Linked DNA regions of Homo sapiens: region 2 is linked to region 1. Evidence: fine-mapped expression QTL. Tissue or cell type: lung. Region 1 holds a variant in brackets; the other region holds the start of a gene. All regions are shown on one strand. Distances are between the middles of the regions.

Region 1 (4,651 bases):
CCTGCTTTCACTTCTGACATATTTTCTCTAGAATCTACTGATGCAGGGATTCACCTTCCTGTGTATAAACTTTGGAGAAACATTGGCACTTTCCAGTTAGGTGGATCCCATGAGATCTTTGCTTCCTGGTCAGAGTAGCTCATTGTTTCAGCTAAAAATAGTTGTATTCTTTAGTTAATATAAATTCATTTCTAAACTAAATGCAAACTCATTTCCCCTTTCTGTGCCATGTGTCCTTCAGCCGAGGAACTGCGTACTCGCAAAATGACTGCCAGCTTGTTAAAGCGGGTTGATAGATCATTTTCCAATAAAAGGTATTACTGCCTTTCTTCTGAGATTTGGGCTTACAAAGTACACTCACTTCTTATTATACTGAGTTTGCTTTCTTGGAAGTCAAAGAATCTGATTAGAATTTGTTGTCAAATCCTGTGTTTTTAATTATTTAAAAATATAAACTTTCATTAAGTTTATTTTCAGAGAATTCGAGCCCCCTTCCCTTTTGTTAAACCACTTTTTTGATGCACGTGTGTAAAATTTCTTACACAGGTTGTGGAGAGAGTGTCATATTTTGTTTTTTACAATTATCTTGTGACTCACATTAAAAACTATGCTGTAGTAACACAACACTTGTCTGAAAGTGAGAAAGTTTAATGTCTAGACTCAGGCTGCCCTGCTTTCCATCTGGTGGGCTGGAGTCACTCCAGAGTGTCTCCCTTGCCTTCAGCTGCCCCTGCTGTTCGTGAGTGCTGGCAGCCATGGGTGGATAGCTCTTTGGATGTCACCTTAGCCTCACTGTGTCCTTTGTGACACATCTCTTGGGCAGCAGCATCCTTGAGATTTCAGTTTTACAGCTCTGCTCTAGATGGTTGAAGTTGCTTGGGAGAACCTTCAATTGAGTGAGGAAGCCCTTGTCTGGGTTGAATGATCTGCTTGTTTCTACAGATATTTTCCAGACAGGTGTGGAAACGAGAAGCTGCTTGGCCTTCTCTCTCCATACCGTGACCCTGGGGTGTCATTCTGTTGCAGAGCAGCCAGACACAGTCTCCAACGCCACCAAAGCCTCCGTCGCCAAGCTTCGAGCTGGGGCTGTCCAGCTTCCCTCCATTACCTGGAGCTGCCGGCAATTTGAAGACAGAGGACTTGTTTGAAAACAGGCTATCTAGCTTGATAATAGGACCATCCAAAGAAAGGGTAAGGGATATATTGCATGTCTAATAGTTGCCAACAGTGTCTAGGTACGGGTTCCGTGTCAGGCGCTTTGCTGAGCTCTTTATACATGTTTGTTTTTAATACTCAAGAGAGGCTTGGAGGCCACGTGATTGCAGAGGTCACACAGATTTGGAGTAAGGCCAGCCTTGAACCCAGGGCTGGGCCTTCTCCTTAACATTGCTGTCTGATGAAGTCAGAGGTAGAAACGTGTGCCATGATGTGCCGTACACACCCTTTCTCTCACCCAGAAACTTAGATTGCATTGTCATTGTTGTAGTTCAGACCTGCCTTTATTTTATAAAACAACAGAATGAAATGGAAACATCTGAATTGTATTGGAAATGATTAAAATGTGTAGTAATCTACATGAGACAAGGAGCAAGAAGCCTGGGAGAACCTCACTGTAGTGTCGGTAGCTTCTGGTGAGGTCTGGGCTGCCCCACGAGGTGCCGCCTCCACTGCAGTGAATATCATCCCAGGAGTCGTCCCGAGCTGCAGATGACAGAGGACACTCAGCCCAGCACTCTGGCCTCTAATGTGCTTAGGAGGTGGAAGTGGGACTTGGCCGGCTGCCACACCTGGCGTTGAAGGCTCTGGGAAGTACAGAGGAAGTTTTCTGCCCAGTTACCTACTGTGCATAGGAAGAGCCCAGGAAGAACCTGCTGAGCACTCCAGGTTGCCGGTGTCCCCTGTGCCAGGGGCCCTTTCCCCAGCTGTGCCCCAGAGTTACCACGTGTCTGTTCCACGCCACATGACCGTGCTGCTTGCTACCCCACCCAGGTCTGCAGAGTCAGTGTCTCTTCCACCCTGGGCTTTAGGGAAGGCCCCGCAGTAGATAGAACCATTCCTCACTTCCTAGGGCAGAATTTAAGGTGGATTTTGATGCAGTATCTTTACAATGAAAGCCAGGTGACGTGTCTAGTCCTTTTCATATTGGTAGATGGTCATGCTCCTGTTTGGAGATTGAGTACATTCCAGGATTGTCACATTAGCCTTAAATTTCCACACCGTCATTTCTAAGGTATTAGTGCCTTGAGAAGAAATGCAGTTTAAAGATCATGAATTCTAGTTTTCCAACTGTAGCCTACTCCCGTTGGTATTGAGTGGAGGAGAAGAGGCAGGTCTCCAACCCTGCTTCAGAAACAGCAGCTCCTGCTGTGCCCAGTTTGAGTCTTGTGTAAGGTTTCTCTTGAAGAAAGAATTGCTTCTTTGAAAAGCCTGACCCTGAGCCTTATGCCACCACCCAGGTGTAGTGGGCTCCATTGCTGCTTCTTGGGAGCTTCTTGAGTCAACAGCGTGGCCCTTGGGTTTCAAAGTGGGGTGGAGGCTCCAGAAATGATGGGGTTCAGCCCTTCCCCTGTTGACATGGAGCTCGTGATGGTCACTCTGACTTGCTTCATGACCTGCAGTTGTGGATCTGCATTTCATTTGCATTGGGACTGCACATATCCTGAATTAATTAGTTAATTTGTTTATTTAAGATAGAGTCTTGCTCTGTCACCCAGGCTGGAATGCAGTGGCACGACCTTGGCTCCCTGCAACCTCCGCCTCCTGGGTTCCAGTGATTCTCCTGCCTCGGCCTACCGAGTAGCTGGGACT[A/G]CAGGCATGCACCACCACACCCGGCTAATTTTTGTATTATTAGTAGAGATGGGGTTTCACCATGTTGGCCAGGCTGGCCTCAAACCCCTGACCTCAGGTGATTCGTCCACCTCAGCCTCCCAAAATGCGGGGATTATAGGCGTGAGCCACCGTGCCCGGCCCCTACCCTGAATTTAAAATGAGCTTTTACAAAAGGAGTCCTTTGCCCTCTTGTTTCCACCAAGCTGGATTCCTGCTGGTCGAGCGCAGGAATTGCAGCGGATTCTGGTTCTCCAGCTGGAAGGGCTCTAGGTCTGTCGTCAGCCTTCATCTAAGGGCAGAAGTGTAAAGAGCACCTGCCCTCCTGCCTTTTTTAAGTTGCATGACAAGTGTATCATCACATGCCATATGTATAAGATCAAGCACACATGAAATAGCCCCTGCACAGGGGTCGCTGGCTGGAGTAAGGAGGGAGTAAGTTTCACTCCGTCCTTTGCTTCCTGGCCTTGGGCAAATTAACTTAGAGGTATTGGGCCTCAGTTTCCTCACCTGTTGAGATGGGGGCATTCGCACACCTGCTTCCTGGGGTTGTGAATTCAGGGAGGGCTGGGAGCTCACATTTATATGGGTGTGGAGGCGCCGATTGTTTTTTCTCAGCGGTGTGAATGAGTTGTGTTGGACTGTGTTAGGATTCGACACTCAGCAGATATGCATGTGGTGTTGTGCCGTGCCGTGCTGGGCCCAAAGTGCCAGGTGGGTGAGATGTGTTTGATGCCTGTTCAGTTAAGAAATAAGCTTGTAGATCATCATTGCGGGAGAGGAGATAAGGGCCTGTGATGTAAGAACAGTGGGGCATTTGCCGAGAAAGAGAAGGGTGGGCGATCTGTGGGGCAGAGGATAGTCCTGGGCTCTGTGACATTTTTGCTGGAGAAGACCCTCTTCCCCTATGTCCTTGTGCTGCTCTCCCAAGGCTGTTCACGGGTGGGGTGAACGGGCACTGGTACCAGCTCCGCTTAGTGCCGGCAGGACTCTGATGAACACTCTTGACCCTGTTTCAGACCCTCAGTGCAGACGCAAGCGTGAACACCCTTCCTGTAGTGGTCTCCAGAGAGCCCTCGGTGCCGGCTTCTTGTGCTGTATCAGCAACGTACGAGCGATCCCCCTCCCCAGCTCATTTACCCGAGTGAGTATTGGTGTTCTTCCAGCGCCTTGGTGTTGACTGACTTGAATGGCCTGTGATGTTGCATGAGATTCAAATATCGGGTGGCATTTTTACAGTGATCCCAAGGTGGCGGAGAAACAGAGGGAAACCCACAGTGTGGACAGACTTCCTTCCGCCCTCACTGCGACCGCGTGTAAATCGGTGCAGGTGAACGGAGCCGCCACGGTACGTACCTCGTGCCTGCCTTCCTGCACGACAGCCGCGAGGCTCTGGTGTGAACAGACGCTGCGCACTCCTGCACCTGCTCGTTTTTTAATCACATCTAATTTGGTGGGTTTTTATTTGCGTCTGTCTGTGTTGTGTTTTCTGTACAAAATACCTTTAATATTTGCTAATAATTTTCCACTAACTACTCTAGTTCTTTCTCAGACCACCATGTAGTCCTTTTATTTCAGTGTTGGTCAATAGAGGTTTCTTGAGTAGTAACAAGACCCCAGCTCCTGTTTCTCCATAGACTTTAGGATCATTTCAGCATTTCGCGCGTGTGTGTATGTTTGCGTGCGTGCGCGCGCATCGTGTGTCTGATGAAGAGACAGGAAGAGCAAGATGGTGGCCCCACCAGCCTCCAACCCCTGTGGGCCCAGCAGGCCTGAACCCCAGCGACTTCCTTTCTGCTGTTTTCCCTACTGGGTGAACTGTGGC
Region 2 (4,651 bases), 110 kb before region 1:
TCTTTAAAAACATTACTATGAATATAATTATTTAACTTGCAAATTCCCTTAAAGCTAGGATGCAACAAGGTTTCACAAAGAAGGCACCCAACCTTGATGTCAACAGTCTACCCACTATGGGAAGCCGGAGAGGCTTTCTTCCAAAATGCAGAATTGTCAGCATTTGAACGCTGAGTACGAAAAATTATAAGCACAGGCTGGGTACACCGGCTCCCATCTCTAATCCCAGATTTTGGGGGCCCGAGACAGCACTCTGAGCTCAGAGTGCAGACCTGCATAGAGCAAGACCCTGTATCAAAAAACAAAATTAAAAAAGCAGTTGTAAGCACAGGTACACGGTTAACCATGAATATGGTATCCCTGAAAAGCCGTTTTAATGGGGGAACAAACCTAAAATTTGGAATAATTGATAATATGTGTATATGTAGCCAATCAGAGCAGAAACCAGAAAATCAGGCAGCAAGCTTAAGGGAAACGCAACATACTTTGTTTGGTTTCCTTTTCTTCCATAAACTGATCAGGGGTAGGTAGAGTATGCTGCTATAGTTCGGAGTCGTCACCATCCTCACGGAAACGGCAGGAGTGTGAACACCTCCCTGAGCTACCAAGAGCATCTGACTCGTTGCAACGTGGGCCCGAACCCAGCGCCTCTAGGAAACGTGGGGCCGGGGCCTTTTGGTCCCGGGTGTGGGTTGGGGGTTTGGGGAAGGGCCGGGGCCTTGATCCCAGGTGTGGGGTTGGGGATTCCGGGGCTGAGCCGAGGCCTTGGTTAGGGGTGTGGGGCGGGGGTTCGGGGCAGTGCCGGGGCCTTGGTCCCGGGTGTGGGGTTGGGACTTCGGGGCCGGGACCTTCGTCTCAGGTGTGGGGCGGGAGTTCGGGACAGGGCTGGGGCCTGGGTCCCTGGTGGGGCGTTCGGGGCAGTGCCGGGGCCTTGGTCCCGGGTGTGGGGTGGGAGTTTGGGGCAGGGCCGGGGCCTGGGTCCCGGGTGGGGCGTTCGGGGCAGGGCCGGGGCCTTGGTCCCGGGTGTGGGGTGGGAGTTTGGGGCAGGGCCGGGGCCTGGGTCCCCGGTGGGGCCTTCGGGGCAGGGCCGGGGCCTTGGTCCCGGGTGTGGGGTGGGAGTTCTGGGCAGGGCCGGGGCCTTGGTCCCGGGTGTGGGGTGGGAGTTCTGGGCAGGGCCGGGGCCTTGGTCCCGGGGGTGGGGTGAGGGGTTCGGGGCAGGGCCGGGGCCTTGGTCCCGGGTGTGGGGTGGGAGTTCGGGGCAGGGCCGGGGCCTGGGTCCCGGGTGTGGGGTGAGGTGTTCCGGGCAGGGCCGGGACCTTGATCCCAGCTGTGGGGTGGGAGTTCGGGGAAGGGCCAGGGCGTGTCCTGGGTGGCCAGGGTCGGGGCCTGGGTCCTGGGGGTGGGATGAGGGGTTCGGGGCAGGGCCGGGGCCTTGGTCCAGGGTCTGGGGACAGGCTAGGGCCGGGGTCGCCATCCGTCCTGGGCGGCGGGCAGGGGTCTTTAAGGGGCGCACGCGGTGGCGGAGGACCAGGGCCCAGCCCTCCGGAAGTCAGGGCCCACACGGCCCCCCAGCGTCAGGCGCTCCGGTCGCGCCGGGGACGGCGGGCGGGGCGGGCGGGGCGGGCGGGGCGGACGTGCGGCGTGCGCGGGGCGGGGCGATGTGCGCGCACGCGCCAATCGCAAGGCCGCGAGCAGGGTGTACGCGCGGAGAGGCCAAGAAGGCGGCGGGGCGGGCCGAGCGTCGGGTGCGCCCAATCAGCGCGCCGCAACACCATGACGTGAGGCTCTCCCGGGGCTGAGCGCCAGTCCGCGGGACCGGCGGGTGAGTGCGCGAGTTCAGGGCGCGAGGCGCGGGTCCGCGCGGGGGCGGGACTTCCGCAGGGCCCCGGAAGTGGGAGCTGTGTGTTCTCATGCGAACGGGAAGGAGCGTTGGGGATCTGGAGTCCCGGGGTTGAGACATTTTCGGGCCCGAAAGGGGAAGAATCCGCCGCCGCCGCCGCCGCCAGCTCGCGCCCGCCCTCTCCCCTACCTCCGGCCCGGCCCGGCCCGGCCGCGCCGCCTCTCCCTGCCGTCTCTCTCCTCGCCGTCCCCGCGTGTGGCGCGGCCGCCGGGCCCCGGGGTTGAGGCGAGGAGCCCGCGGGCGGCCGGTCGGGCGGGGCGGCGGCGCTGACAGGTGAGGCACCCTGGGCCGCGGCGGGCCGTCCCTCCCGGCCCAGCTCGGACCCGCGCCGCGCCGCCTGTCACTGCGCCGCCATCTTCCCGGAGGACGCGGCCGCGGCGGGCAGGGCCGGGCCTGGGCCGGGGCCGGGGCCGGGGCAGGGGAAGGCCGGGGCCGGGTTGAGGAGGACCGGGGCTAGGGCACGGGAAGGGCCAGGGCTGAGGAGGACCGGGGTCAGGGCCAGGAAAAAGCCGGGGCTGAGGAGGACCGGGGCCGGGGCAGGGGAAAACTGGGGCTGAGGATGGCCGAGGCCGGGGCAGGGGAAGGCCGGGGCCGGGGCTTAGGAGGACCCGTTGAGGCGAGGCGGGAGTCGACGGAGCTGGGTGCCCGGAAGACCGGGCCGGGGTCAGGGTCGGGAGGCCGGGGTTGGGCGAAGGCCGGCGAGGACGGGGGTCGGGCAGGGCCTGGGCGGGGCCGGGGTCGCGGGCCGCGAGCGCCCCCAGGCCGGGCGGGCGCCGGCACCCGCAGTGCGGCGCCAGCCTTGCCACTCGCTCCTCGGTCCCGCCGGAGCCCGGATAGGCGGCCGTGCGGGTGCGGGGCGGGACGGGTCATCAGGGCATCGCATTCCTTTAGAACCAGGAAGTTGGGATCCTGTTGCTCGGTGTGTGTTTGGAACGCTCCTGTTTTCCTGTTGATAGACTTGAGCAGAGGTGGATCTGAAGGAGTTAAAAAAATAAAGTCAGATGTGAAGATTGCCTGTGTTGGTCTTGGGGCTGGGATACATGGGCGGCAGAGAAGCCATCGGAAAGCTGCTGCACCTGCCTCTCAGGGTGCGCTTGGGAACGTGAAGAGTCTTTCCGTTTCAGTGCCGTTGTGCGTCGAAACTTCATGCGAATGTAATTTTGCTTTTCCCCTTATTTTTACGTAAAACGTTCTTAAAACTTGGCTGAGATGAAACTTGAGAAACCTAGCTGTAGAAAACTACCTCCTATCTGGCTTTCGTTTGAGATTCTCTAAGTGGATGCCCAATAACTTGTCTTAATAGTAAATTGGAAGTTTGAAGTTTTGGATAACTGAGAAAACAGGAAGGTTTTCCTTGACAGGGCAGTGGAGTTTGTAAGTATAAACAGTATGCGTGAGGCCTTTTTCTAGAGATGAGAGCAACTCCAAGGTGAACATTGAAGGGGACAGACAAGTTATTTTCCCTTTCGAAAGTTTTTTTCTCTTAGTTTCAGTTGTTTGAATATTTAAATGCACTTGAAATAGGTGCTGAGTTGTAGTTTGTGAAGACCACAGTGGGGAAGAGTGGTGTCCTCTTTTTTCTTGGTGGTCAGGTGGTGTGTGCAGTGTGCAATTTCCATACTTCCCCAACCTGCCTGGCGCCCCTCATTACAGTCAGGGTAATTTACAGAAGTTGAAATCGTTGTGGCTTTTCAGTTTTTTCTCCTTGTATTTAATATGCTGAAAGGCAGTTTTGTAATCAAACCATATAAGAAATAGCTTAATTGAGGTTTGCTAAGTGAAATGCGTTCCGAAAGGCATCAGATTAACAAGCTTATTATTTAATCATAAATTTAATTTGTGTACTTATCTTTGAAACTTGCATTGGTTAGAAATAAATTTTATCCGGTATTTTGAAAAGTTAATGTGAGTTGAGTTGACTTATTTATATGAAACAAAGGCATGGCTTATTCATTAGAAGTTACCCTCGTGTTGCCTACATTTTCTCAATTGTAACAGGGGGATGATGATAATCTCATTTTCTTAGGACTGTTGTAACACAAACATGGAAATGTTGTCTGGTTTTGCTATTTTCACTATTACTGATTTTTTTCTTCCCCCCCCGAGTTGGAGTCTTGTTCTGTCACCCAGGATGGAGTGCAGTGACACGATCTCAACTCACTACAACCTCCACCTCCTAGGTCTTCAAGTTATTCTCCTGCCTCAGCCCCCCGAGTAGCTGGGATTTACAGGCACATGCCACCACACCTGGCTAATTTTTGTATTTTTAGTAGAGACGGGGTTTCAGCATGTTGCCCAGGCTGGTCTCGAACTCCTGGCCTCAAGTGATCCACCTGCCTTGGCCTCTCAAAGTGTTGGGATTACAGGAGTGAGCCACTGCGCCCAGCTTACTGAATTTTTAAAATATTCTACCTTGTAGCTGTCAATCTATTAGCAGAAAGTTTTGTTTTTGTTTTTGTTTTTTTGTTTTGTTTTTTTTGGCTTGTTTACACATGTATCTGGGCAGAGAAAACAGCTTCTGAGCACAGAATGCATATTTGGAGAAAGCAGTTCCACTCTTTTTGAGTAGGAACCAGACAGAAAAAAAGATAACATGGGTACTATTCTGTAGAAGAGTAGCTGAAATTAAGTGGCAGCAAATTCAGGGAGAAATGTAATTTGGTTTAATGTTCGGGAAGATTGCCATTTTTAAAAGTGAGATTTAAAGAATTTATTGAATTTAATGCAATTTCCATAAGTAAGCACAAGTTT

What was found. PIP is the estimated chance that this variant, and not a neighbour inherited with it, causes the effect.
Region 2: LARP4B starts here. The variant in region 1 is fine-mapped to the expression of LARP4B in lung (TOPMed, PIP 0.91).

What each region holds. Positions count from the first base shown.
Region 1 is chr10:814,265-818,915 of GRCh38, reverse strand. LARP4B (La ribonucleoprotein 4B) reads left to right here. Exons shown (of 18, transcript NM_015155.3): 15 at 1,027-1,191; 16 at 3,846-3,970; 17 at 4,066-4,174. Among named protein-coding and RNA genes, the nearest start is that of LARP4B, 120 kb to the left of the region's middle. RefSeq lists enhancers at 3,703-4,203, 4,204-4,651. The variant A/G (reference allele first, on the strand shown) is at 2,809.
Region 2 is chr10:928,950-933,600 of GRCh38, reverse strand. It overlaps LARP4B (La ribonucleoprotein 4B), which reads left to right and starts at 1,896. Exons shown (of 18, transcript NM_015155.3): 1 at 1,896-2,173. It overlaps LOC124902363 (keratinocyte proline-rich protein-like), which reads right to left and starts at 1,610. Exons shown (of 2, transcript XM_047426111.1): 1 at 486-1,610. The coding sequence starts at 1,474. The coding sequence ends at 770. It overlaps LARP4B-DT (LARP4B divergent transcript), which reads right to left and starts at 575. Exons shown (of 3, transcript NR_120629.1): 1 at 486-575. RefSeq lists silencers at 1,316-1,405, 1,486-2,195, 2,266-2,375, 2,406-2,485, 2,576-2,705.